7 linked regions of the Homo sapiens genome follow. The protein of the gene in region 4 interacts with the protein of the main gene of each other region in a pairwise test. Each region holds a gene or a part of one and is shown on either strand. Other genes may lie near its edges. The genes, in order: PAEP, MYADML2, ACSF2, ARL13B, SEMA4G, FDFT1 and MMD.

What was found.
Region 1: the proteins of ARL13B (region 4) and PAEP interact in binary tests that used the Homo sapiens proteins (3 or more experiments, as listed by UniProt).
Region 2: the proteins of ARL13B (region 4) and MYADML2 interact in binary tests that used the Homo sapiens proteins (3 or more experiments, as listed by UniProt).
Region 3: the proteins of ARL13B (region 4) and ACSF2 interact in binary tests that used the Homo sapiens proteins (3 or more experiments, as listed by UniProt).
Region 5: the proteins of ARL13B (region 4) and SEMA4G interact in binary tests that used the Homo sapiens proteins (3 or more experiments, as listed by UniProt).
Region 6: the proteins of ARL13B (region 4) and FDFT1 interact in binary tests that used the Homo sapiens proteins (3 or more experiments, as listed by UniProt).
Region 7: the proteins of ARL13B (region 4) and MMD interact in binary tests that used the Homo sapiens proteins (3 or more experiments, as listed by UniProt).

Annotation. Positions count from the first base shown.
Region 1 is NC_000009.12:135,560,552-135,564,555, reverse strand, and holds the start of PAEP (glycodelin isoform 1 precursor), read right to left. Parts: upstream 2,801-4,004; 5' UTR 2,755-2,800; coding exon 2,659-2,754; intron 2,263-2,658; coding exon 2,123-2,262; intron 1,737-2,122; coding exon 1,663-1,736; intron 313-1,662; coding exon 202-312; intron 1-201. UniProt on the Homo sapiens protein: Glycoprotein that regulates critical steps during fertilization and also has immunomonomodulatory effects. Four glycoforms, namely glycodelin-S, -A, -F and -C have been identified in reproductive tissues that differ in glycosylation and biological activity.
Region 2 is NC_000017.11:81,944,434-81,948,590, forward strand, and holds the start of MYADML2 (myeloid-associated differentiation marker-like protein 2), read right to left. Parts: upstream 2,801-4,157; 5' UTR 2,626-2,800; intron 1-2,625.
Region 3 is NC_000017.11:50,464,218-50,467,717, reverse strand, and holds part of ACSF2 (medium-chain acyl-CoA ligase ACSF2, mitochondrial isoform 2 precursor), read right to left. Parts: coding exon 3,424-3,500; intron 3,223-3,423; exon of another isoform or gene 3,193-3,222; coding exon of another isoform or gene 3,119-3,192; exon of another isoform or gene 2,421-3,118; coding exon of another isoform or gene 2,279-2,420; intron 2,012-2,278; coding exon of another isoform or gene 1,848-2,011; intron 1-1,847. Other genes in the region: CHAD (chondroadherin precursor), read left to right, coding at 1,848-2,011, 2,279-2,420. UniProt on the Homo sapiens protein: Acyl-CoA synthases catalyze the initial reaction in fatty acid metabolism, by forming a thioester with CoA. Has some preference toward medium-chain substrates. Plays a role in adipocyte differentiation.
Region 4 is NC_000003.12:94,032,155-94,035,654, forward strand, and holds part of ARL13B (ADP-ribosylation factor-like protein 13B), read left to right. Parts: intron 1-3,176; coding exon 3,177-3,282; exon of another isoform or gene 3,283-3,287; intron 3,288-3,500. UniProt on the Homo sapiens protein: Cilium-specific protein required to control the microtubule-based, ciliary axoneme structure. May act by maintaining the association between IFT subcomplexes A and B. Binds GTP but is not able to hydrolyze fit; the GTPase activity remains unclear.
Region 5 is NC_000010.11:100,972,504-100,976,003, reverse strand, and holds part of SEMA4G (semaphorin-4G isoform 1 precursor), read right to left. Parts: intron 3,476-3,500; 5' UTR 3,092-3,475; coding exon 2,968-3,091; intron 2,876-2,967; coding exon 2,727-2,875; intron 2,458-2,726; coding exon 2,395-2,457; intron 1,020-2,394; exon of another isoform or gene 920-1,019; intron 1-919. UniProt on the Homo sapiens protein: Cell surface receptor for PLXNB2. May play a role in axon guidance.
Region 6 is NC_000008.11:11,819,741-11,823,240, forward strand, and holds part of FDFT1 (squalene synthase), read left to right. Parts: intron 1-2,009; coding exon 2,010-2,138; intron 2,139-3,500. UniProt on the Homo sapiens protein: Catalyzes the condensation of 2 farnesyl pyrophosphate (FPP) moieties to form squalene. Proceeds in two distinct steps.
Region 7 is NC_000017.11:55,415,336-55,418,835, forward strand, and holds part of MMD (monocyte to macrophage differentiation factor), read right to left. Parts: intron 1-3,500. UniProt on the Homo sapiens protein: Involved in the dynamics of lysosomal membranes associated with microglial activation following brain lesion.

The sequences.
Region 1 (4,004 bases), on a different chromosome or scaffold from region 4:
CTCCAGCCTGAGTGACAGAATGAGACCCTTTCTCAAAAAAACAAAGCAAACAACAAACAAATAAAAAAAACCAAGAAAAAAAAAGTCAGCCCACAGGCACCGAGGTGGACAGGAAGCCAGTTGTCAGCTCCCCAGGGTTCCCAGCCACGGACGTAGCTGCTGCCTCTCACCCACGTTGAGCTCATGTGCTGTGAGACCCACCCAGGTACTGGCACATCATGCTCTGGATGGGGGTGGTGGTGTCCTGTAGGCAGAGAAACAGGAAATTGTCGTAGTCAGTATCGAGCAGCGTGGCCTCGTTCGCCACCGTATCTGGGGAAAGAAGAGAAGAACCAAAAGGAAGATGAAGCCTCCGTCTCAGCAGAGTCCTGTGCAGGTGTGTGGACATCCCACCACACTAAGTGGCTTCCTCATCCACTGACACCATGGGACGTGGCCCCTGCTGTGGACCATGATCAGGGAAGCCAGGGAGGAAAGGGGAGGAGAGGCAATGTGGAGGGCCATGGAGCCCCGGCTGAGGGGGAGAGGCCAGGTGTGCCGTGGAGAGGCAGACACGGCAGGCAGGGAGGCTGTGACCTGGAGAGACTCCAACTGAGAAGTCACGTACGGGTGAGGATGGCGGGAGATGGCACAGGAACAGGGCACAGGGGCGGGAAGAGGGAGAAGAAATGGACCTTGGAGAGTGGCTCGATTCTGGGGAGGGCAAGCAGGGTCAGAAAGGCCTGAGGCAAGTCCCAAGCATGAGAAGCAAACTGTATTTGCTGGGAAAATGTGCCCATGAGGGGATAAGAGGCCCCAGACCCTGACCACCTCTGTCTTTTTAAAAAAATAATAATTAACAAAATAGAACAAAATGTTGCAAATTGTTAGGAAGAATTCAGTGGACCAAGGACATGCTGTAAGCCCCTCTCTCTTCCCCCAGAGAGGCCTGGGAGCTCAGCCTAAGACCAGAGCTGCAGCCCCAGAGTGCGCAGGAGGCAGCCAGGCCCACGGGAACAGCAGCCACTTGCCCACCTGCCCACCTGCCCACCTGCCCACCTGCCCACCTGTTCACCTACCCACCTGCCCACCTACCAACTTGTTCACCTGGCCACCTGTTCACCCACCCACCTGTTCACCTACTCACCTGCCCACCTGTCCACCTACCCACCTGTCCACCTGTATACCTACCCACCTACCCACCTGCCCACCTGTTCACCTAACCACCTGCTCACCTGCCCACCTGTTCACCTAACCACTTACTCACCTAGCCACCTGCCCACCTACCCACCTGTTCACCTACCCTCCTGCCCACCTGTATACATATCCACCTACCCACCTACCCACCTGCCCACCTGCCCACCTGCTCGCCTGCAGCCTCCCTGGCCTTTTGTGAGGCCAGAGTGAACAGTGCAACAAAGCACCTGTCCCCTGTGCCTGGGCACAGTGCAGACCCACATCCAGTCATGTCATGCCAAGAATTAGTGCTTCCCCTGCCCTCCAGGTAAAAGATGCCTCTGGGGTCAGCATCAGGTTGACCGGAGTAAACACTCTGACTCCCTGAAGCAGAGAGAGTGGGGACAGGCCAGGCCCCACTCCCTCATGCCCCAGCAGAGCCGCCTCTGGGAGAGCGTGGCTAGCATGCCAGCACTGAGCCAGCCCTTGGGGCCTGGGGACACTCACAGTTGATCTTGAACTTCTTTGGATTCTCAGTCTTCTCTCCAAGGACCTTCTTCTCAACACAGCTGTTGTTCTCCCTGAAAGGTGGTGACAATAGGATGAGTGGCCACTTGAATTGGAGTTGCCTTCACTGTCACTCCTAAAATCAGGTCACCACGGGAACTTCCCCGGGTCCAAGGAGCACCGCAGCCCGCAGCCGCCCAGACCTTCTCCTCAGTCTGACCTGGGGCTGCACTGTGTGGTTGGCTGTTGGCCCAGAGCCTGGGGCAGGGGATCCAAGGGGACAGGGAACGTCTGGAGCCCTGGTTTTCCACCCCACCCTCATGGAAGGGCCACAGTGAAGCCCCTGGCTGTCAGAAAATGCCTGGGGCTAAGTCCAGCTCCGCCCAACCCACCCAGTCCTGGACCCCTGAGGGGGGAGACTGAGCCCCCGCCCAGCCCGTCTCAATGATGAGAAACCCACCATCTGTGCAGAACGATCTCCAGGTTGTCCTCGGGGGTGGGCAACAGTGAGGTGATGTGGACCCTCAGAGGGGCCTTCAGTGTCGCCATGAGGGAGATGTTGTTGGTCGCCATGGCCATGGAGTGCCAGGTCCCTGCCAACTGAGGGGGCCTTGGGCTGCACGGCGGTCCCACCCCACCATGGCTCTCGTTGCACCCGGTGCAGACGGGGCTGAGTCTAACTGGGATGGGTACAGTGAGCATTGGATGGTTGTCTGCTATCTACCAGATCCTGGGCTATGAAATTTCCTGTACTTAAAATGACCAGTGTGTGCTAACTCAGGAGTGTTCCAAAGTCCAAATAATGAGTCACCTAGGATGCTGGGAAACCAGAGAGGCCACCCTAAAGATGGAGAGCAGGGCTGAGGGCTTCCTGACGTCATGGCGTCCATTCTGTGCTTCCTGTAGGTTTCTGAGATCCTGGGCTTCCTGCCTGCCCGCAGCTCCCACCCGCCCCAGGCCTCCCACAGTAAAGTGCCCGCTCCCCCAGCCTCAAACCTTTGGGAGCTCCAGGTCCTGCTTGGTCTGGGGGATGTCCATGGCCGGGACACCACAGACCAGGGCCACGCCCAGGGTGAGCAGGAGGCACAGCATGGCTGCGGCTGTGGGTGGCTCTGAGCTCTGGAGCCAGAGGGATGCTGAGGCAGTGTGGGCTCAGGGGGCCTTATGTAGGAGGAGGGCAGACAAGATCCCCGCCCACAGCCTCGCCATGTGATTCCTCGAACCTGTGACTCATCCTTGGCCCCTGGGCAGCTTCCTCCACTGGGGCAATGGGAGGCTCTTCCCTGCGTCCACGCGGGAACCTCCTCTGTGTCCGGGCTGGGCAGTTCTTGGCAGGGCCTCAGGCGGGAGGGGCCTGGGTCGGGTCCAGGCTGGCAGCGGCGGGAGCACCTTCTGGGTTGGGGCTCCTGGACAATGTTGGGTCAGAGGCCAGCACTGAGGACAGCTGTGTCCAGGGCAGGGGTATGGCCTGTGGGGCAGGCAGAGGGCCTGAGAGCCCCATGGCTGCCCCAGGATGCCACAGACATCATGCCAGTGGGTGACTGACTGCACGGTCATAATCCTGACCTGTACCTTCCACTCAGACATCCCCAGGTGTGCACACCTGTGTCCCTCAAACAGCCAGCCTCTGGACAGGTGCACACTGCCTGTTAGCACTGTTTCTCTCTGACTCACAGGCAAGACTGGGTGGAAATGGGAGGCAGTGGACTTTCAGACTTTGTCCTACAGTCTATATTGGATGTACTTTTTCCCACAGGGAAGCATCACTTTGTAACTTACAATCGAGCCCGCATCTCACTCCCTGGAGAGCACTTGAGTCCTGAGGCAAGACACGGGTGTCCACTCCCACTCCCCCATCCATCAGAGCAGGTCATTCCGGCCAGAGCAGCTAGGCAAGAAATGGTAACTAAAGGCAGGCAGATTGGGAAGGGGGAGGTATACCTGTCTCTATTCGCATATAACATCATTGCCCAGGTACAAAATTGCAAGAACTCTACAAAACCCCTCCTAGAACCGAGTGAGGTCAGCAAGGTCAATCGCACAAAAATCCACCGTGTTCCCACACAGTGTCAAGGAGTAGACAGAACCCGAAACTGGAAATTCAGGATTTGTAATCACACACACAGCATGTAGGCAAAAATCTCACCAAATATGGACAGGACTTAAACTCTGAACCCAAGGAAGGGAAATCAAAGACCTAAGGTAAAGGACAGGCACAATGTGTTCATGGGCTGGAAGCTTCAACACAGCAAAGGTGTTAGCTCTCCTCAACTCAACCTAGAGATTTAATGCAATTCCTATCAAATTCTCAGCAAGATATTTTGTAGGTAGCTATAGACATG
Region 2 (4,157 bases), on a different chromosome or scaffold from region 4:
TCTCTGCCCTGGGTTTCTGAGACAGAACTTCTAAGACCCTTTCAGACAGAGGCAGGAGGAGTCTTTTATTGTGGTATTTGGTCTTTGACCCCGGTTCCTGACATAGAGCTCCTAAAACCTTTATAATCTCCTAACCCATAGGATCATCTGACATGGGGCTCCCAATCCCCTTGAATTTCCTGGGTGACAGGAGCGTCTTTTGTTCTAATGAGGCGACTCCTGGTGGGCTCCTGGACAGCCTTGGGGTGGGGGGTTGGTGGCAGCTACTATGTGATCAGAAGGGCAGAGCTTCTAGCCCCACTTGCAGCCTCCAGGAGGGACAGGGGCTGAAGGCTGAGCTGATCACCAGTGACCAATGATGTAATCAGTCATGCCTACGTAATGAAGTCTCCATAAAACCCAAAAGGACAGGGTTGGGAGGTTTCCAGGTGGCGGAATGCTTGGAGGGTCCTGGAAGCTCCCTGGAGAGGCCTCCAGATGAACAGCATTGCCTCTATCTGCTGTTCATCTGGGTCCTTTGTCACACATGGGGAAACATAAATAAAGTGTTGGCGGAGCTCGGTGGCTGACGCCTGTCATCCCAGCGCTTTGGGAGGCTGAGGCAGGCAGATCACTTGAGCTCAGGAGTTCCAGACCAGCCTGGCCAACATAGTGAGACCCCATCTCTACAAAAAATACGAAAATTGGCTGGGCGCAGTAGGTCACGCCTGTCATCTCAGCACTTTGGGAGGCCGAGGCAGGTAGATCATTTAAGGTCAGGGGTTTGAGACCAGCCTGGCCAACATGGTAAAACTCTGTCTATATTTAAAAAAAAAAAAACAATTGGCTGGGTGCGGTGGCTCACACCTGTAATCCCAGCACTTTGGGAGGCCAAGGTGGGCGGATCACGAGGTCAGGAGATCGAGACCATCCTGGCTAACACAGTGAAACCCCATCTCTACTAAAAATACAAAAAATTATCCAGGCGTGGTGATGGGCGCCTGTAGTCCCAGCTACTCAGGAGGCTGAGGCAGGAGAATGGCGTGAACCCGGGAGGCAGAGCTTGCAGTGAGCCAAGATAGTGCCACTGCACTCCAGCCTGGGCAACAGAGCAAGACTCTGTCTCAAAAAAAAAAAAAATTGGCTAAGTGTAGTGGCACATGCCTGTAATCTCAGTTACTGGGGAGGCTGAGGTAGGAGAATCGCTTGAACCCAGGAGACCGAGGTTGCCGTGAGCTGAGATTGCACCACTGCACTCCAGCCTGGGCAACGGAGTGAGACTCCATCTCAAAAAAAAAAAAAAAATGAGTTGGGCGTGGTGGTGCACATCCGTAATCCCAGCTACTTGGGAGGTTGAGGTGGGAGGACTGCTTAATCCCAGGAGGTTGAGGGTGCAGTGAACTGTGATTATGCCGTCACACTCCAGCCCGGGCAACACAATGAAACCCCATCTCCAAAAGTAAATCAATAAATAATAAAATGAGGAAAGTGCTTCCCTGAGTTCTGTGAGCCACTCCAGCAAAGTCACAAAACTGGAGGAGGGGCCATGGGAACCTCGGTTGGCCAGAGGGCGGGTGACACCTGCTACATTTGGTCATCTGTCCTCAGGTTCCACACCCAAGTATTCAACAAACCTCAGACTGAAAATACAAAAAATACTGGCCCGGCGCGGTGGGTCACGCCTGTAATCCCAGCACGTTGAGAGGCTGAGGCAGGCAGATCACCTGAGGTCAGGAGTTTGAGACCAGCCAGGCCAACATGGTGAAACCCCATTTCTACTAAAAATACAAAAATTAGCCGGGCGTGGTGGTGGGTGCCTGTAGTCCCAGCTACTTGGGAGGCTGAGGCAGGAGAATCGCTTGAACCCGGAAGGCAGAGGTTGCAGTCAGCCGAGATCGTGCCACTGCACTGTAGCCTGGCGACAGAGCAAGACTCAGTCTCGAAAAGAAGAAAAGGCCGGGCGCGGTGGCTCATGCCTGTAATCCCAGCACTTTGGGAGGCTGAGGCGGGCGGATCACAAGGTCAGGAGATCGAGACCATCCTGGCCAACGTGGTGAAACCCCGTCTCTACTAAAAATACAAAAAATTAGCCAGGTGTGGCAGTGGGCGCTGGTAGTCCCAGCTACTCGGGAGGCTGAGACAGGAGAATGGCGTGAACCCGGGAGGCAGAGCTTGCAGTGAGCCGAGATCGCGCCACTGCACTCCAGCCTGGGCAACAGAGCAAGACTCCGTCTCAAAAGAAAATACAAAAAATAAATAAATAAAACAATAAATAAGGCCAGGCGCAGTGGCTCATGCCTGTACATCCAGCACTGTTGGGAGGCGGAGGTGGGTGGATCACCTGAAGTCAGGAGTTTGAGACCAGCCTGACCAACCAACATGGTGAAATCCCGTCTCTACTAAAAATAACAGAAATTAGCCAGGCCTGGTGGTATGTGACTGTAATCCCAGCTACTCCAGAGGCTGAGGCAGGAGACTTGCTTGAACCTGGGAGGCGGAGATTGCAGTGAGCCAAGATCATGCCACTATACTTCAGCCTGGGTGACAGAGGGAGACTCCATCTCAAAATAATAGTAATAATAATACAAATAATACAAATTTAAAAAGCAATACTATGTAACAACTGTTTACATAGAATTTACATACCAGGTGTTATAAGTAATCAAGAGGTGATTTAAGTCCAGAGGAGGGGGTTATATGCAAATAACATGCCATTTTGTATCAGGGACTCTGGCCTTGTGGATTCTGGTGTTTTGGAGGTACTGGATCCCATCCCCCAAGGATACAAAGGGACAGCTGTACTTGGGACTGGCATCTGAAGTGGAGGACACTCTTGTGGGACTGAGACCTTAGCCTGCAGGATCGGGTACTGTCTCCAGGGAGAAAGCGTCACAATGGAACAGGGTTGGAGGACGCCCAGCGGGTGTCCGCGGAGACTGGATGGAACCGGGTTGGAGGACGCCCAGCGGGTGTCCGCGGAGACTGGATGGAACAGGGTTGGAGGACACCCAGTGGGTGCCTGCGGAGACTCGCTGGAGCAGGGTTGGAGGATGCCTAGTAGGTGTCCACTGGAGACTTGCTTGGTGTTTGGGGAAAATCCCCACACACATTTTGGTGACCAGAGATGAAGTATTCCATGTTGGATGTTGACTGTTGAGTGTGTGAGAGCAGGGAAAACACTGTTTTTTTTTCCTGTCTCAGACACCAGCCCAGCCCTGGAGTCAGCCGTGTCTCCCAGGAACCTGGTTCCTTGTGTTGGGGGAATGGCATCAGAGACCAAGACATGGGGGCCAGGCACGCTTGTTGCTGCTGTGGTATACATTCACAAACGTTAACAAATATTTTTATTTTTACTTATTTATTTATTGAAGATGGGGTCTCGCTCTGTTGCCCAGGCTGGAGTGCAGTGGCATGATCTCAGCTCACTGCAATCTCCGCCTCCTGGGTTCAAGAGATTCTCTTGCCTCAGCCTCCTGGGTAGCTGGAATTACAGGCACGCAGCACCACACCCAGCTAATTTTTCTATTTGTAGTAGAGACAGAGTTTCACCATGTTGGTCAGGCTGGTTTCAATCTCCTGACCTCGTGATTCACCTGCCTCGGCCTCCCAAAGTGCTGGGATTACAGGCGTGAGCCACCACGCCCAGCTGGCTTTCTTTTTTTAAGTACAGAGTTTAAATTTGTAATGTTGTCACACAGTGGAAGTTCCCTGCTTTCAGTCCCTGAATAGCAAAGGCTATGCCTTGGCCATCGCTGCTGGAAGAGACACGGCTCAGTGTTGGATGAATGTCCTGACTGTTTTCGCCCCAGAGAATGAAAGGCGCCAACCGTCCTGGGAAAGGTGAGAAGTCAGCGTGGACAAGCTGGGGTGACCATCACTGCAGAGCTACAGGCCAGCGTCCTCTTCGTGTCCTAGGGCTCGTTTTGTTCCTGGTCCTGCAGGACAGCCTGGGGTCACCGTCACTGCGGAGCTACAGGCCAGCGTCCTCTTCGTGTCCTAGGGCTCGTTTTGTCCCTGGTCCTGCAGGACAGCCTGGGGTCACCGTCACTGCGGAGCTACAGGCCAGCGTCCTCTTCGTGTCCTAGGGCTCGTTTTGTCCCTGGTCCTGCAGGACAGCATGGCAGCGATTGACCGATTGACCATTAGGTGAGCTGCGCCTCTTTCTCTTTCGGCACAAA
Region 3 (3,500 bases), on a different chromosome or scaffold from region 4:
GTTGGGCCTTCCACCCCTCCTCTGCTGTTTTTCCCGTCTCCAGTAAACCTACCACCCCATAAAGGAAGGTTTGTTTATTGAGGAGCCTTCCAGAGGAGCTGGGCAGATCAGGCCCACAAAGAGACCCTGTTCCTGGTGGGGGCTGTGCATGTGTGCTAAGGGGGAGTGGGGGACTGGGGAGTGAGGGGAAGCAAATGCCTGAGGAAGACATTCTCCATGCCCCATAGAGGCCCTGGTGGATGGCCCTGCCCAATCCACACAGACACAATTCACTGCATTCTCAAGTCCATTGCAGCTCAGTAGGCGTGGGACCAAGGGCTCCCCCAGGATGCAAGCATCGTGCCCATGGGCTCCGTGAAGGGGCAAAGGCAAGACCACTATTGTCAATCCTTGGCCCAAGACCCCAGGTGTCTCTCCACAGAGAAGACTGGCGTGACTCACTGTCTCCAGACTGCTAACTGCCCTTTGCCCTCCTCCGTCACTAGACCCATCTCCTGTCTGCATCCTCACTCATTCCTTTCTCCCCTGGGGTGCCCAGTGTCTGGCCAGGTGGGGCTACCTTGGATCAGAGCAGAATCCCTTCTCTGGGACTGGAAAAATCACCCTGGTACAGGGGCTTCAGCCAGGAGGTTTGGGTGGGGAACCAACAAGGTAGAGGAGAGTCTGGTTACTGGAGACCTTCATACCTCAATGTGGGCCACAGGAAAGGGTGCGGGTGTGGAGATGTGGGCAGAATCTCACTTGGGCAGCAGCCAACCTTTGTCTGGGTGGAAGGAGCCTGCTCAAGCCTGCCCTTCTTCAGCCCTGCCTCTCCCCAGCTGAAGTTGGAGTCCCCTGTGGCCCACCAGTGCCAGAGTGGTCTTTCAGTGGGCAGCAGAGCAGCGAATTAGGGGCTGGTTTGGGGCAGGGGAGGCCAGACAGGAATTGTGGCGCCTGGGCAAAGGTGTGGGCACCAATAGAACATTTCCTCTGGAGCCGTCCAACCTGGCCAAAGGCTCCACCAAGGTGGCTTCACAAATAGCGTCTGGCTGGCAGTGGGGGAGCAGTGAGGACAGAGCTGAGGGAAGTCCTGGGACCCTGGGACTGTGGGGAGCCTGGGCCCACTGCCCACTCCACCAAGCACAGACCAAGTTCACCGTGTACCAGTTTGGATTGCTGGGGCCAAACTCTGGCAGCCCCACAGTCCCAGTGTTTGTGCAGGGATTGTGGTGCCAGGGGAAGAGGAGCTGGGTGTGGTCCTGTGGCTACTGTTTACCCACTGCTGTGACCCAGGGCAAAGGACTGCGCTTTTTCCGTTTCCCCATTTGCATATTGAAAATAACACCACCTGGCTGGGCGTGGTGGCTCACGCCTGTAATCCCAGCACTTTGGGAGGCTGAGGCGGGTAGATCACGAGGTCAGGAGATCGAGACCATCCTGGCTAACATGGTGAAACTGCGTCTCTACTAAAAAAATACAAAAAAATTAGCCGGGCATGGTGGCGGGCACTTGTAGTCCCAGCTACTCAGGAGGCTGAGGCCGGAGAATGGCGTGAACCCGGGAGGCGGAGCTTGCAGTGAGCTGAGATCGTGCCACTGTGCTCCAGCCTGGGCAACACAGTGAGACTCCATCTCAAAAAAAAAAAAAGGAAAAAAAAAAAAAAAAGAAAATAACACCATCTGTCTCAAAGGGGGTTGTGTAGATTGGATTATCTGAGATCACTTGGTCATACTGCTTTGAAAACTGGGAAACTCCTCAAAGTGCTATGGCTCAGGTTCAGGGAAGGATCCTGCCCCTCTGGCACTCGGGTGCTTACTCATTCACTCATGACCACCTTGCTCCCACCTTGCTCCCACCTTGCTCCCCAGTTCTCAGATGGTGCCTTCCTGGGTGTAACCACGCTGAAACACGTCCATTTGGAGAACAACCGCTTGAACCAGCTACCCTCCAACTTCCCCTTCGACAGCCTGGAGACCCTCGCCCTTACCAATAACCCCTGGAAGTGTACCTGCCAGCTCCGGGGCCTTCGGCGGTAAGAACACTTCCATGTCACTCCCAGAGCCCACCCTCATGTGATAGAGGCACATTAGCCCTGCACTAAGACATGTTGGACATGCATCCTAGATCTGCTACCTAATAAGCATGGGACCCTGGGAGCCTCAGTTTCCCCATTTGTAAAATGAAGATGACAGCTTCAGACTATCCTGTGGCCAAGTCAATCCTGGCCCCATAGTTCACTGCCCTTCCCCCCAGCACTCCCACCTTCTTCCCCAGCCCCAGCAAGTTTCTGTCTCTCCAGGTGGCTGGAAGCCAAGGCCTCCCGCCCAGATGCCACCTGTGCCTCACCTGCCAAGTTCAAGGGCCAGCACATCCGTGACACGGACGCCTTCCGCAGCTGCAAGTTCCCCACCAAGAGGTCCAAGAAAGCTGGCCGCCATTAAACAGGTGGGGGCCAGGTAAACAGGTCCCCTATGTCCCTCTTTGGTGATTCCAGCAAGTGAGCTGGTATCTTCCAGGATACCCCCTGGCCCTGGAGGGTCAGGCAGACCCTCCATTTTTACAGAGAGAGGAGGGGACGACTGGGTCCCCTGTTGAAGGGAGGAAAAGGTCCTGCCCAGGACTTCCACCATTTTCTTCAAGCATCATCTGTGTTGTTGGAGTACTGACATCGATCTTTGCCTCTTTGCAGGTTCTGACCCAGCCAGTCCTGGTGACTGGCCTCTGCCTTCCACCGGAGAGACTACTGACCTTCTCACCTCCACCCATACCTTCTCCCCACAGCCTCTGCTGATGCACAGAGCTGCCTACACCTAGACACGTCCTGGCAGGGGGCCTCGGGCACTCCACTACCAACCCAGCTCCACCCAGCAGTGTCCTGGGGAGAAGGAAGGCTGAGCCTCTCCCCAGCCTTCATGCCTTCCCCACCCTCCAGCTCCTCTTGGAGAAGCTGTTGCTGAGACCCCCCCCCCAAGTCAATCAGAACCACAACAGGTTGGTCATCAGGATGGCCACCCTCCCAGGATCATCCTTCCTCTGTTCCTCTTTCCCTGCCACGTGGAAACAATCATCAGATCCTTGCCCCACCCCTTGCTTCCAGAAAGGGTTTTAAAGCCCATGCCCCAACTCTGCCAGCCCCCACCTGCCAGGACGTTCTAGCAGGACATCGGTGCTTTGCTGTCCATCTTCCCATGCTGCAATTTCTTCCTGAGATTTCTATAAATATAAATGTATGTATGTATTATATTTACTCCCCTGCCACCTATCTCCTTCACCCACCAGGTGCTGATGAGGTCAGACTATCTTTTCTCACATCTGCTTTCTGGAAGGAGGGCTGGCTGAGAGGGTCTCCTTTGAACATCTGGCCTGGACTCATCCCCATGTCTGTCCATCTGCTGTCATCCCAGGCCTGGCCTGCCCACAGCCCGGGCCGCAGTCACCACTCACCACCAGGTCCTTCATATTTATCTTGTTGATGATGGCTCGGATCAACTCTGGAGGTGCAGGGGACCCAGCAATGACAC
Region 4 (3,500 bases):
CGACCTCTTTATCCTATAGGAGACTAATAACCAAAACTTACAAGGAAATCAACAACAAAAAACAACCCCATTAAAAATGTGCAAAAGACATGAATAGTCATTTTTCAAAAGAAGACATACAGATGGCCAACAAGCATATGAAAAAAATGCTCAATATGCCTAATCAGAGAAATGCAGATTAAAACCACAATGAAATACCATCTCACACCAGTCAGAATTTTTAGCTGTTACTGAAAAGTTAAAACATAGCAGATGTCTGCGAGATTGTGTAGCAAAAGGAATGTTTATACACTCTTGGAATGTAAATTAGTACAATCACTATGGAAAACAGTATGGAGATTTCTTTTTTTTTTTTCTTTTGAGACGGAGTCTCGCTGTGTTGCCCAGGCTGAAGTGTAGTGGCGCGATCTCGGCTCACTGCAAGCTCTGCCTCCCGGGTTCATGCCCTTCTCCTGCCTCAGCCTCCCGAGTAGCTGGGACTACAGGCGCCTGCCACCACGCCCGGCTAGTTTTTTGTATTTTTAGTAGAGATGGGGTTTCACCGTGTTAGCCAGGATGGTCTCGATCTCCTGACCTTGTGATCCGCCCGCCTCGGCCTCCCAAAGTGCTGGGATTACAGGCGTAAGCCACCGTGCCCGGCCAGTATGGAGATTTCTTAAAGACCTAAAAAAAGAACTACCATTCAGTCTAGCAACCTCACTACTGGGTACCTATCCAAAGGAAAAGAAATCATTATACAAGAAAAGATATCTGAACTCAAGATGTTTATCACAGCATTATTCACAGTAGCAAAGGTAGGGAGTCAACCTAAATGTCCTTCAATGGATGATGAAAGAAAATGTTTGTGTGTGTGTTTTGTATATACATACATAAAATGGAATGCTATTCAACTATTTAAAAAAGCATGTTTTTTCCAGCAACGTGGATGGAGCTGGAGGTCATTTTTTAAAGTGAAATAATTCAGAAACAGTCAAATCTAGCGTGTTCTCACAAGTGGAAGTTAAATAATGTGTACACATTGACATGGAGTGTGGATTAATAGACATTGGAGACTTGGACAGGTGGGAGGGTGGAAGGGGAGTTAGAGATGAGAAATTAATACCTACAATGCACATTATTAAGCTTATGGTTACACTGAAAGCCCAGACCTCACCACTATGCAATATATCACCACTATGCAATACATTTACATCACAAAACTGCACTCATAATCCTTAAATTTATAGGATTTTTTTTTTTTAAATCAACCTGATCACCTTCGGAGGTTGCTACGCCATTAATTCATTATTTTGAAAATCAGGAAATAAAGGCAAAGGATCAAACATTTATCTTGACTTTGTGAATTTTAAGAGGCACCAAGTAGTTGGTGAAAGCTTATTTTTAGCAAGAATCCTGCTAGTAAATGCAGAAGGAATATGGAACTATAAAGTTACTGTTTCATAAACTTTGGTAAAATAATAGAATTAAGTAAAGGTCATCAATGGCTGCTAAAATCATTAAGTGAAAGATTAATGAGGAACTTTATTTTGGATGGATCAGGCTAAATGTAAATCCATTAGTTAATTTTATACCACCAAAATAGGACATTATATAAAAGTGATATTATATGCCTCCCTAAATACAAGCACCACCTACGAAGTATGCTTGCCAAAAAGATTTCATCTGAAACTCATCCAGCTTCTTACCACCAGATACGGGAAATATAGGATAGGTATGTTAAATAAGTTTATAAGGAAGATATTAGCCAAATCCCAAACATGGGAATTCTAAAGAAAAATTACAAATGTCATGGGAGGAAAAGAGTCATGGGGGTGGTAGTGGGGAGGGCAGGTATAATATAGATTCAAAAAGAGTTAAGTGATAAGTAACGTATATTGGACCTGAATTTAAACATAACACTTGTAAAATGATATTGGAGAATATTGAGTAAATTGAGTAATATTGAAGACTTACTGTTAATTTTGTTAGGTGTGATAGTGGTATCATGGTAATGATTTTTTAATATCTGGGTGAAGTAATGTGATTCAGGCAGCAAAATAGAAGGTATGTAGATTTTAATGGTAACTTGGGAAATACAAAAAAAAAGAAGGTATATAGATAAGCAAGAATGACACAGTTTTGATAATTTTTAAAGATAGGTGGGAAGGGTTCGTTAGATTTCTTAGTCTATGTACTTAATTTTTTTTTTAACCTAAAGAGTCTGTCAAACTTTGAGCAAGGCAGTATTTTATTAAACTTTTAAATCTATGTTATATAATTAAATAGTGGTAAATTGTGGTAAATCCTGTTTTTCTGTAGAATATATTGGTTTTCCATTTTGTTGGTGTCCAGTTTGTCTCTAATTGAGTACAATTTTTTTTTTTTTTTTAATTCCCAGTGCTTTGCCAAGTATATTAGAAGTGGCCTTGGGTCTTCAGTAAATTGCACATTTATGTGGACACATTCACACATTAGAATTGTAGATGAGCTCAAATATTAAAAGTTCAGAATGAATATTTGGGCATTTAAAACATTACAGTTTGTATTTTAAGAAGATAAGAATATAATTTATGGATGTGACCTGTGGAAATTAGTCCTCTTATTTTTCTGTTTTGTAGCTTTTTCTGTTTTGTTGGCATATTGATCTCTTGTTTATGTTTTCTTGACACTTTATTTGATTTTCCTTTTATAGGCCAGTACTTAAAAACTATTTTAGCAATAATAAGGGAAAAATGACAAAATTGATGCTACAACATTTTAAGATACTAGTGTGTTCTGTAATCAGTACATTTAAAACTTGGGAATCAAAGAATGTGGTCAGGCCAGGCATGGTGGATGATATCTGTAATCCCAGCACTTTGAGAGGCTGAGACTGACAGATCACTTGAGGTCAGGAGTTCAAGACCAGCCTGGCCAACATGGCGAAACCCAGTCTCTACTGAAAATACAAAAAATTAGCCTCGCGTGGTGGCACACAACTGTAGTCCCAGCTACTCTGGAGGCTGAGGCAGGAGAATCACTTGAACCTGGGAGGCGGAGGTTGCAGTGAGCTGAGATTGCACCACTGTACTCCAGCCTGGGAAACAGAGCAAGACTCAGTCTCAAAAAAAAAAAAAAAAAAGAATGTGGTCAAAATATCTTTAAGTTTCCATCCAATTATATATATGCTGTATAAAAGTACTTTAATTATCTTTCAGGTTGGCAAATAAACAAGATAAAGAAGGAGCTTTAGGAGAAGCTGATGTCATTGAATGTCTATCTCTGGAAAAATTGGTCAATGAGCACAAGTGCCTGTGTCAGATAGTAAGGTTTTTTTTTTTTTTTTAATTTTAATTTTTTGTCCTTTCAAATAGGTTCAGTATAACTTGGTTTTTATAAAAGTGATAGCAATTAAAAGGCAATGTTTTCAAAGAATTTTTTGTAACCTATGAAATCACATTCCCATTTTTCTGTTGATATAACTTAATACCATAATATTTGTTGTCTATTTCATTGTTATTTCCATGAACTATCTTTCCATG
Region 5 (3,500 bases), on a different chromosome or scaffold from region 4:
CCAGACTCACCCTATTTTCATCCATCCAGTGCCTGGGGCCAGATAAATATTCCTAAAGTGATGTTTCCCCAAGATGTTTATTTATTTTTTTAATTTTATTTTTTTTGAGACGGAGTCTTGCTCTGCCGCTAGGTTGGAGTGCAGTGCATGATCTCAGCTCACTGCAACCTCCGCCTCCCGGGTTCAAGAGATTCTCCTGCCTCAGCCTCCCGAGTAGCTGGGACTACTACTCTCAACACCATGGTGATGTGACTGGGACTACTACTCGCATGGATGTGCATCACCATGCCGGGCTAATTTTTGTATTTTTAGTAGACACAGGGTTTCACCATGTTGGCCAGGCTGGTCTCGATCTCTTGACCTCATGATCCACCCGCCTCGGCCTCCCAAGGTGCTGGGATTACAGGCCTGAGCCACCGTGCCCAGCGGATGTTTACATTTTTTAAAGGGGGGTAGGGAGGAATTCTCTGGTCAAATAACTTTGGAAACCACAGGTGAAACCTATCTTTACTGGGCTTACTTCCTAGAGCCTGAAGGATGTTGCTGTGCATTGTGGGACTGGGCATGTAGTGTTTCCCAAACTCATTTGACATTTAAACCCCTCCTTTGAAAATTAATGTTCCTCAGAACATGCTTTGGGAACTGTTCTATAAAGCCTTGCTATCCAAAGTGTGGTCTGGGGACCAGCAGCATCAACTTCACTTGGGAGCTTGTTAGAATTGCAGACTCTTGGGCCCTTCCCCAGACCTACTAAGTTTAGCATCTGCATTTATAATATACCTGGGTGATACATTAAAGTTAGAGCCTCTAAAGTATCAAATTCTGAGGGTGTTCACTGTCACAGAATAAAACCCAAACTCCCAGCTGGGCATCTGTGGCCTTCCATGACCTGGTTCCATCTGCCTCCCCAGCCCCATTTTCTACCTGTGCTGCACCAAGAGGCAGCCTTTGATGGAAGCTCTTGGAGATGCCTTTTTAAACGGAGCTGTCCCAACACCACCCCTGGCCCACCTTGGCCCAGTGGATCTTGGGAATTTTTTTTTAATTATTTTTTATTAGAGATAGAGTCTCATTATATTGTCCAGGCTGGCCTCGAACTCCTGGGCTCAAGTGATCCTCCTGCCTTGGCCTCCCAAAGTGTTGAGATTACAAGTGTGACCCACCATGCCCAGCCCAGGGCCGTTTATTTTGTAAAAGCTCTCCAGATGGAGCCATTACCTAGCCAGACATGGGACCCCTGGAGACACCCTATTCTTTAGCTGGAAAGGGCTGATGCTTCATTAATGCCTGTCCATGGAATACTGGGTATTTGACCTATTCCTTGACCAAAGACTCATTTTTCTCATCTGCAAAATGCAGGATAATACTATTTCATAGGGTTATTTTAGAATTAACTGAGATAATAGCTAAATCATCACTTGCTGTAGATAGTTGCTGACTTAACAATGGTTCAATTTATTATGATGGTTTTATTGGTAAGTAACCCATCGTAAGTAAGCATCTGTAGAGGTTACTTACTGTTTTTTGTTGGTTTGTTTTTTTGAGACAGGGTTTTGCTCTGTCATCCAGGCTGGAATGTGTGGCTTAATTATAGCTCACGCAGCCTCAACCTCCCAGGCCCAAGTGATACTCCCACTCAGCTTCCCAAGTAGCTGGGACTACAGGTGCACGCCAGCATACTTGGCTAATTTTTGTATTTTTTTTGTAGACAGATCTCGCTGTGTTGCCAAGGCTGATCTTGAACTCCTGGACTCAAGTTGTCCTCCTACCCTCAGCCTCCCAAAGTGTTGGGATTACAGATGTGAGCCACCGCGTTCAGCCTACTTATTGCCATTTTGATTATTTGGGATCCCAGAGGAGATGAAGATGCCACTGCGGGACAAACTAGTAGGCCACCAGATGGTTGAATTAGAAGTACTGTGCCCAGATGCCGGGGGCAATGGCTTACATCTGTAATCCCAGCACTTTGGGAGGCTAAGGTAGGGGGACTGCTTGAGGCCAGGAGTTCAAGACCAGCCTGGGCAACATAGCAAGACCCTGTTTCTACAAAAAATAAAACACTTAGCTGGGCGTGGCATGTGCCCGTGGTCCTAGCTACTCAGGAGGCTGAAGTGGAAGGATCCCCTGAGCCCAGGAGTTTAAGGCCACAGGGAGCTATGATCATGTCACTGTACTCCAACCTGGATGACAGAGTGAGATCCGACCTCAAAAAAAGAAAAAAAAAAAAATGCTGTGCCCATGGCTTGCCACTCTGGCAATACTTACAATGTTTACTGTGGTTGCTGAGATTGACTGGCAGGTCTGTACCTACCCATCTGTGTCCCCAACAATCCTGGCATCCCTGATTGAGGAAGAAGGGGAGGAAAGGAGCTGGGGACAGGGCAGACCACATACCTGGTTGTTTTTCCCTTTTTGATGACATTTGCTTTGCATCTCTGGGGAGGCTTCCCAGTGGATCTAGTGGAGGCAAAGGGAATAGGCTGATGCACTGACCCCAATACCTATTACTCATAGGACCAGGCAATAGGACCCCACAGAGTTGGGGAAATTGGGGTGGGGATCAATTTCAGGAGGAACACTGAATGCAAGGAACACCTGGGCTGGGAAGGGCAGTGCTGTCTGACCAGGGGGCTATGGAAGGCTGGCAGGGTTTTAAGGAAGTTGAGGTCCCAGGGAGCTGGATAAGCATAGAGACCCTCTGGGTGGTCCAGGTTCCAGGGCCTGACCTCTTTGTGAGCCCCATCTCCTATGTCGTTGGCACTGAGAGAGAACAGGGCACCTCGGGCTCCCACCAGCAGCCTTGCTGAGGCCTCCTCCAGCAGCAGTGTTGAGTAGTTCTGGGCTTGGCCCTTGAAGTGCCGGGTCCCAGAGAGCTCTGGGGAGAGCAGGAACAGTGAGCCCTAGTTCTGGGGTGCCTCCCCACCCCCAGCCCTGGCTTCTGCTGCCTTTTGAGGTTGAGGGTCTAACCTTCATAGGGTATGGTCATCCGAGGGGTGGCATCTAGTTCTCTAGACGGTCTCCGCAGTGAGGGTCCTGGGACTGCAGTTGCTGTGAGGATGCTGAGGAGGAGGGGCCAGAGCCTCCCCCACATCTTCCTGGGGAGGCCCAGACTAACAAGACCCCCAAAGGGAGCCAGAGTCACAGGTTGTGGGGGCGGGGAATGGGAAGCACAGTCACAGGGGTCAAAGTCCAAGGAAGTCACTTGGAAGGTCAGGGGTCATAAGGTCATAGGAGTCAAGGAATCATGGGGCCATGGGGGGTCCTGGAATCGGGGGGACATGGAGTCACAGGGTTGTGTGGCCATGGAATCCCCAGCTAAGAGGTCAGAAGGAGGGAGGGATCACATGCCTTTCTGCATCAAATGCAAACTCCATGGTGAGAGGGAGTTGTGAAGTTCTAGAGGGGTTGTAGGTTACTGATGGGGTCACCCTGCCCCCGACAGTAGAGCTAGTCCTGGTTTTCTGAGGTCCGTTTTCTGAAGAAAAAACGGGGAAAAAAAA
Region 6 (3,500 bases), on a different chromosome or scaffold from region 4:
TTGTCCAACCTTTTCTCAAGGTTTTAAGTTTCCTTGCGATCGGTCAGAACGTGCTGCTTTAGCTTGGAGAAGTTTGTTATTACCAACCTTCTGAAGCCTACTTCTGTCAACTCGTTAAACTCATTGTCCATCCAGTTTTGTTCCTTTGCTGGTGAGGAGTTACGTTCCTTTGGAGGAGAAGAGGCGTTCTGTTTTTGGAATTTTCAGCCTTTCTGCTGTGGTTTCTCCCCATCTTTGTGGTTTTATCTACCTTTGGTCTTTGATTTTGGTGACGTACAGATGGGTTTTGGTGTGGGTGTCCTTTTTGTTGATATTGATCCTATTCCTTTGTTTGTTAGTTTTCCTTCTAACAGAGGCCCGTCAGCTGCAGGTCTGTTGGAGTTGCTGGAGGTCCACTCTAGACCCTGTTTACCTGGGTATCACCAGTGGAGGCTGCAGAACAGCAAATATCGCGGCCTGATCCTTCCTCTGGAAGCTTCGTCCAAGAAGGACACCCACCTATATGAGGTGTCTGTCGGCCCCTACTGGGAGGTGTCTCCTCCCAGTCAGGCTACATGGGGCTCAGGGACCCACTTGAGGAGGCAGTCTGTCCGTTACTGGAGTTCAAATGCCGAGCTGGGAGAACCACTGCTCTCTTCAGAGCTGTCAGGCAGGGATGTTTAAATCTGCAGAAGCCGTCTGCTGCCTTTTGTTTAGATATGCCCTGCCCCCAGAGATGCAATCTAGAGAGGCAGTAGGCCTTGCTGAGCTGCGGTGGGCTCCACCCAGTTCAAGCTTCCTTGCTGCTTTGTTTACACTGTGAGCATAGAAGTGCGTACTGAAGCCTCAGCAATGGCGGGGAGGCGCTTCCCCTCACCAAGCTCCAGCATCCCAGCTTGATCTCAGACTGCTTGGCTAGCAGCAAGCAAGGTTCCATGGGCATGGGACCCCCCGAGCCAGGCACTGGAGGCAATCACCTGCTCTGCCAGTTGCGAAGACTGGGAAAAGCACAGTATTTGGGCAGAGTATACTGTTCCTCCAGGTACAGTCACTCACGCCTTTCCTTGGCTAGGAAAGGGAAATCCCCTGACCCCTTGCACTTCCTGGATGAGGTGACGTCCTGCCCTGCTTTGGCTCACCCTCCATGGGCTGCACCCACTGTCCAACCAGTGCCAGTGAGATGAACCAGGTACCTCAGTTGGAAATGCAGAAATCACCCATCTTCTGCATCGATCTTGCTGGGAGCTGTAGACCAGAGCTGTTCCTACTGGGACATCTTGGAAGCAACTCTGGGTCTGAGTTTCTGTTTGTTGCCCTGATGTATATCCCCAGTGCCTAGAATGATACTTGTTACATAGGAAGTGCTTGATCCATGTTTGCACAAATGAATCTTTCTCATAATGAGGTTTCTCTAAACAAGCTGTTCTCCCAAAAACTTAAACCCAGCTTTATGTTGAAGCATCTCATTATACATTGGAAAGATGAAATGTGTAGTGAGACTTTGAATCTTCTTTTGAATCTAGAAACATTAGCATTTTTAGACCATTCTATTTTAATATTTATGAAATTTATGAAATAATAAGAAACATGAGGCCGGGCTCAGTGGCTTATGCCTGTAATCCCAGCAGTTTGGGAGGCCAGGGCTAGTGGATCATGAGGTCAGGAATTTGAGACCAGCTTGGCCAACATGGTGAAACCCCACTTCTACTAAAAATATAAAAATTAGCTGGGCGTGGTGGTGCATGCCTGTAATGCCAGCTCCTGGAGAGGCTGAGGCAGGAGAATCATTTGAACCTGGGAGGCGGAGTTTGCAGTGAGCTGAGATCGTGCCATTGCACTCCAGCCTGGGCAACATTGCGAGACTCCATCTCAAAAACAAAAACAAAAACAAAAAAAATGTGTGACCTAAATTAGGCTTATAGATGAACCATTGCAGTCATGATTAATTCCGCCATTGTTTGCCTTGTGATCTTTGGTGCCATGTCTGTACATATTTCATGATTTCTGTGTTTTTACGGTTTCCATTTCAGATCTCCCTTGAGTTTAGAAATCTGGCTGAGAAATACCAAACAGTGATTGCCGACATTTGCCGGAGAATGGGCATTGGGATGGCAGAGTTTTTGGATAAGCATGTGACCTCTGAACAGGAGTGGGACAAGGTTAGTCTCATAAAACAGTGTCTGTGTGTGATGTATTAGACAGAGCTGGCAGTCCTCATAGTGAAGCTCAGAACAAGAAAAGTTGTCCAGTATTTTCAGCCCCTCTGGTTTTACAATTCATCTGTTTAGGTTGAATGTCTCATCATAAACAGTTTATTCCAGAGTTAATTCCAAACCAGCAGCTATGTAGGATATCAGCCAGGCTAGGAGTAGGGTACTGGAGAGAAGTGCTTATCTAGACAAAGGGATGTAATTGACCATGAAGATTAAAACTACACATCAAAACATAAGGTAGGGTTAGGAGTCTTGCCTATTTTTCATAGGAATGGTGTTTGTGAGACTTACTCATCACTTCTGTGGAAGTAAAGACATTTTATTTATTTATTTTAAAGCCAGTCAGATTTAGCAGGCAGAGACATTTCAGACATCTAAAGTGTTGATGTATTTCATACCTTTAACTGTGCTTAAATTAGGATCTCCGAAAAGATGCTGCTACATGGTCACTACGTTAGTGTAGGTCCAAGGTCTTGGGCCTCTTAATTTTTCAAACCTCAAAACTTGACAGCAGTTATCTTTGGAACTGCTGATTTGTGCTTCCTAAGTTAACAGCATACAATGACTGCTAGAAATCAATTTCTGCATTTAAGGTGAAGTTAGCCGGGTACTATGGTTTACCTGTAATCTCAGCACTTTGGGAGGCTGAGGTGGGAGGATCATTTGAGCCCAGGAGTTAGACACAAGCCTAAGCAACATAGCGAGACCCCGTCTTTCAAAAAATTAAAAAATGAGCAGGGAATTGGTGGCATGTGCCTGTGGTCCCAGCTACTCTGGAGGCTGAGGTGTGGGAGGATTGCTTGAGCCCAAGAGTTGAAGGTTGCAGTGAGCCATGATTGTGCCACTGCACTCCAACGTGGGTGACAGAGCAAGACACCATCTGAAAGAAAATAAAGTTGAAGTTAAAACTTCTGGCCAAGAACCAGCACTGGTTATGATAGTAACTCATTTTCTGTTGTGCAGATTTATTCAGGAAACTTAATTTTAGGTTGTTGAATAGAAGTTTTGATCAGATAAAATTGAATTAAAAAAAATTTTTTTTGAGACAGGGTCTTGCTGTTATCCAGGCTGGTGTGTAGTGGTGTGATCACGGCTCCCCGCAGCCTCAACCTCCTGGGCTCAGGTGATCCTCCCACCTCAGCCTACCGAGTAGCTGTAACTACAGTGCATGACACCATACCAGGCTCATTTTTGTACATTTTTTGTAGAGAGAGGGTTTTGCCATGTTGCCCAGGCTAGTCTCAAACTCCTGGCATCAAACAGTCCTCCCACTCTGGCCTCTCAAATGTTGGGATTACAGGCATGACC
Region 7 (3,500 bases), on a different chromosome or scaffold from region 4:
TTAAGAGTCTGTAAGACGTCAACAGGCTTTGCACAATAAATAATCCTTTTGCTCAAGCTAGTTTAAAGAAGTGTGAATGGGGGTTGGGGGTTGGTATTTTGTGCCACTAATGAGTTCTAACTACTCATTACCTTATTCATACACAAAATAAAAAATGGTACAGGGCTGAACCAAATGGTAGAACCAAGTTGCCAAAAATTGGCTAAAACGCATGACCAAGCCATTTTAGAGAGTGCCAAGTTTATTAATAAAAGACCAGCCAATACTCTTTCCCTGAGTTAGGAAGAGCCTGTTATCGTTAGATCAAATAAATAAAAATAAAGTGGCAGCCACTATTAACACAATACAGATAGTTCAGGTGGAAAATCCACTGGGGAATGAATTTGGGACAGTGAAGATATTTCACTTGGCCCACTGATGGGTTAAGATATTTAACTAGTGTACAAAATATGTACTTACTGAGTATAATCTACCAGATGGTTTGAAAACCAACTGTTAAAGAGAAATATACAGTTAGTAGCTTCAAAATTTATCCAAGCTATTCTCAAATATAGTTAACTATTATTAAGCATCATCTTTTCTCCCCTGATAATATTTTAAATAATTTTACTAATTTCCTAAGAGACAAGAGTGTTGCTATACAGCTCTTATTAGCAAAAAAGAAAATAATTACACTCTTGGGAAGAATGCTTTAAAAGTGTCCCAAGAATTGGAGGATATACCACATCATTGTCCTGAGACATAACAACAGAGCTATAAGTAGCATACCCTATTAGGAATTTTCAAGGCTAAAGAGCAAGGCCCCAAGATGGCTGTAGTTAGATGAAATTGAATGTGCTCTGTGTAGGGTGCAGTAAGTAGGATTTGTCTACCCACCACCAGGCTGCAGACTAAAATAGCAATTTATATCTCTGGCAGCCCAATCTAAAAATAGTCAAGCCATTACCCAGCAACAGGGATAGACTTTCACATTTTCTCCTAAAAACAAATAAACTGGATGGCCATGTTTGTGACAGCTTAGTCCCTGATCACCTGGAATAATTCACATTAAAAAATAAAAGTAGAAAGTTATACAGAAAAATATCCCACCCATGGTGACTTAAGGCACTCTATCCTGATGCACAGGGTAAGACACGGGCAATAGGGAAAGATAAGGGTAACTATCCTGGAAGCAATTCTCTAAATCTGGGGCTCAGTAGGATAGACAGCATAATTGTTCTGCTGGGAAAGTACAATACAATTTTCCCATTTCTCTCTAACCTGCCAGGGTGCAATCAAGCCTCCTCCACAGCCTCCTGAAGAAATCACTCCTAAAACCTAAATGGAAAAGCAGATGTAAAATGTAAATCAACTCCCACACTCTGGCCTTCATCTCTTCCCCGAAAAAAGAATGGGAAAGGTTCAAGTGCTGGTTATGGAAAACAGCATCCATTTATGGAAGACATCTCTATTTAAAGCGGAGTGGCCCTAATGGTTACTCAATGCTTGAGTAACCAACAAGCTCTAGAGGGTTTGAAGGAAGGTGATTCAGTCCTGGGAGTGGGAGCTGCACTTAATAAAGCTACTAGTTAGGCAGAGTTTTTTTACTCATTCCTTCACTTTCTCTTTCAAAACTCTCCTGCCTTCCCCCTTGCCCAACGTTCTTATCACCTCCTCCTTCCCCCATACCCCTCTCCCATGCCATGACAGAATTTCAAAACCATGGAGGGAAAGAACAGATCAGAGACCTGGGAACACTCCTTAGCACACTAACACACTTTAAATTCAACCTAAAGCACTGTGCCCACTGAGTAGATCTGCAACCCACCAGCAGATCTCAGAGGCTGATCTCAGTAGATCAAATCCCACAAGTGTTCCTCATTCTCCGAGTGCAAGTACCATCAACACTACCTTCAAAATATATTTCAAATAAGTCCACCTCATCACTTGAGGTCAGGAGTTCAAGACCAGCCTGGCCAACATAGAGAAACTCCATCTCTACAAAAATACAAAAATTAGCCTGGTGTGGTGGTGTGCACCTGTAATCCCAGCTCCGCGTCTCCTACCTTAAATAAAGACCTAACATCTCAGGTCTGTACAAATACAAAGTCTCTTAACTAGTCTTCCTGCTTGACCCAGTACAGACTCTCTTCTTTACATAGCAGCTACAGTTTTCCATTAGAAACAGATGAGGGGCTGGGCATGGTGGCTCACACCTGTAATCCCAGCACTTTTGGGGAGCTGAGGCGGGAGGTTGCTTGAGCCCAAGAGTTTAAGACCAGCCTAGGCGGTATAGTGAGATCCCATCTCTACACACAAAAAAAAATGTAAAAATTAGCCAGGTGTGGTAGTGTATGCCTGTAGCCCCAGCTACTTCTGACTGAGGTAGAAGGACTGCTTGAGCCTCGGAGGTCAAGGCTGCAACAGTGAGTTGTGATGGCACCACTGCACTCCAGTCTGGGTGACAGAACAAGACCCTGTCTCAAAAACAAACAACAACAAAAAACCCAGATCACATCACACACCCCAATCCCAGCTTAAAGTCTGCCTCTGGCTTCCCAAAGTGCTTACGATAGCACTGTAACACAGTGTTCAGAGGCCCACAAGCCCTGAGTGGTCTGGGCCTCACTACCCCTCCAGTCTCAGGGTGGCATCTTTCTCTCTCTCCATCCTCTGGCTATACCACCTCCTTTCTGCTCCTTAAACACATCAAGGTTGTGTCTGCCTCTGGGCATGTGTACTTGCTGTTTACTTCTGTCTAGGATATTCTCCAGAATGCTCAGCTCTCTTCTCATCCTTTCAGCTCAGCTCAGATGTCACCTCCTCAAGAGAGGTTTTCCAGACTATCCTAACTGAAGTATCATTTCAACCCTCCCCATCCAACCAGAGCCCTATGTCACAATTGGTAAGACTTTGATTTGTTTTAGCTTATTTTTTATTTCATCTTTTCCCACTGTAGTGTGAATTCCATGAAGGCTGTCTTGTTCACCTTTCCATTACCAAACTGAAGTACAATGCCCAGCTTATTGCTAGAGCTTAATAATTGTTGAATGAATAGAAAGACATTCCAGCTACTGCTGAACTATTTTGTCTTAACAAAGATATCCCATAGTCAATTAGTTTTACTGTGGACACAGCAGGTTCTGTAAGTAAGAGAAACAGGCAGCCTTGGAACCAAGAGAACCCCGAATCTCACACACACACAAAAACACTTAAAATCCAAGACAACGGATATTCCAAGGGCCCCTTCAACATCATTTATGTTGCAACGTATAAGTGGACCCCTCTTACTATTAGCTCCCCTTTATGACTGAGCATATTTGTTCAGGAAAAGTGTCTACTGTCAATAGTGCCAATCTTGACTTAATTATTAAATAAAGGAAGATGGCATATATAAGGAGACTACCCCATGCCTATGATTTAGTGCTTTAAGAACATGGGAAAAAAGACAATAGGTAGCCCTGTAAGACTTCTAATACTGTAGATTAAAATGCTTTCCCACATATCCAGTTTTGAAGCTA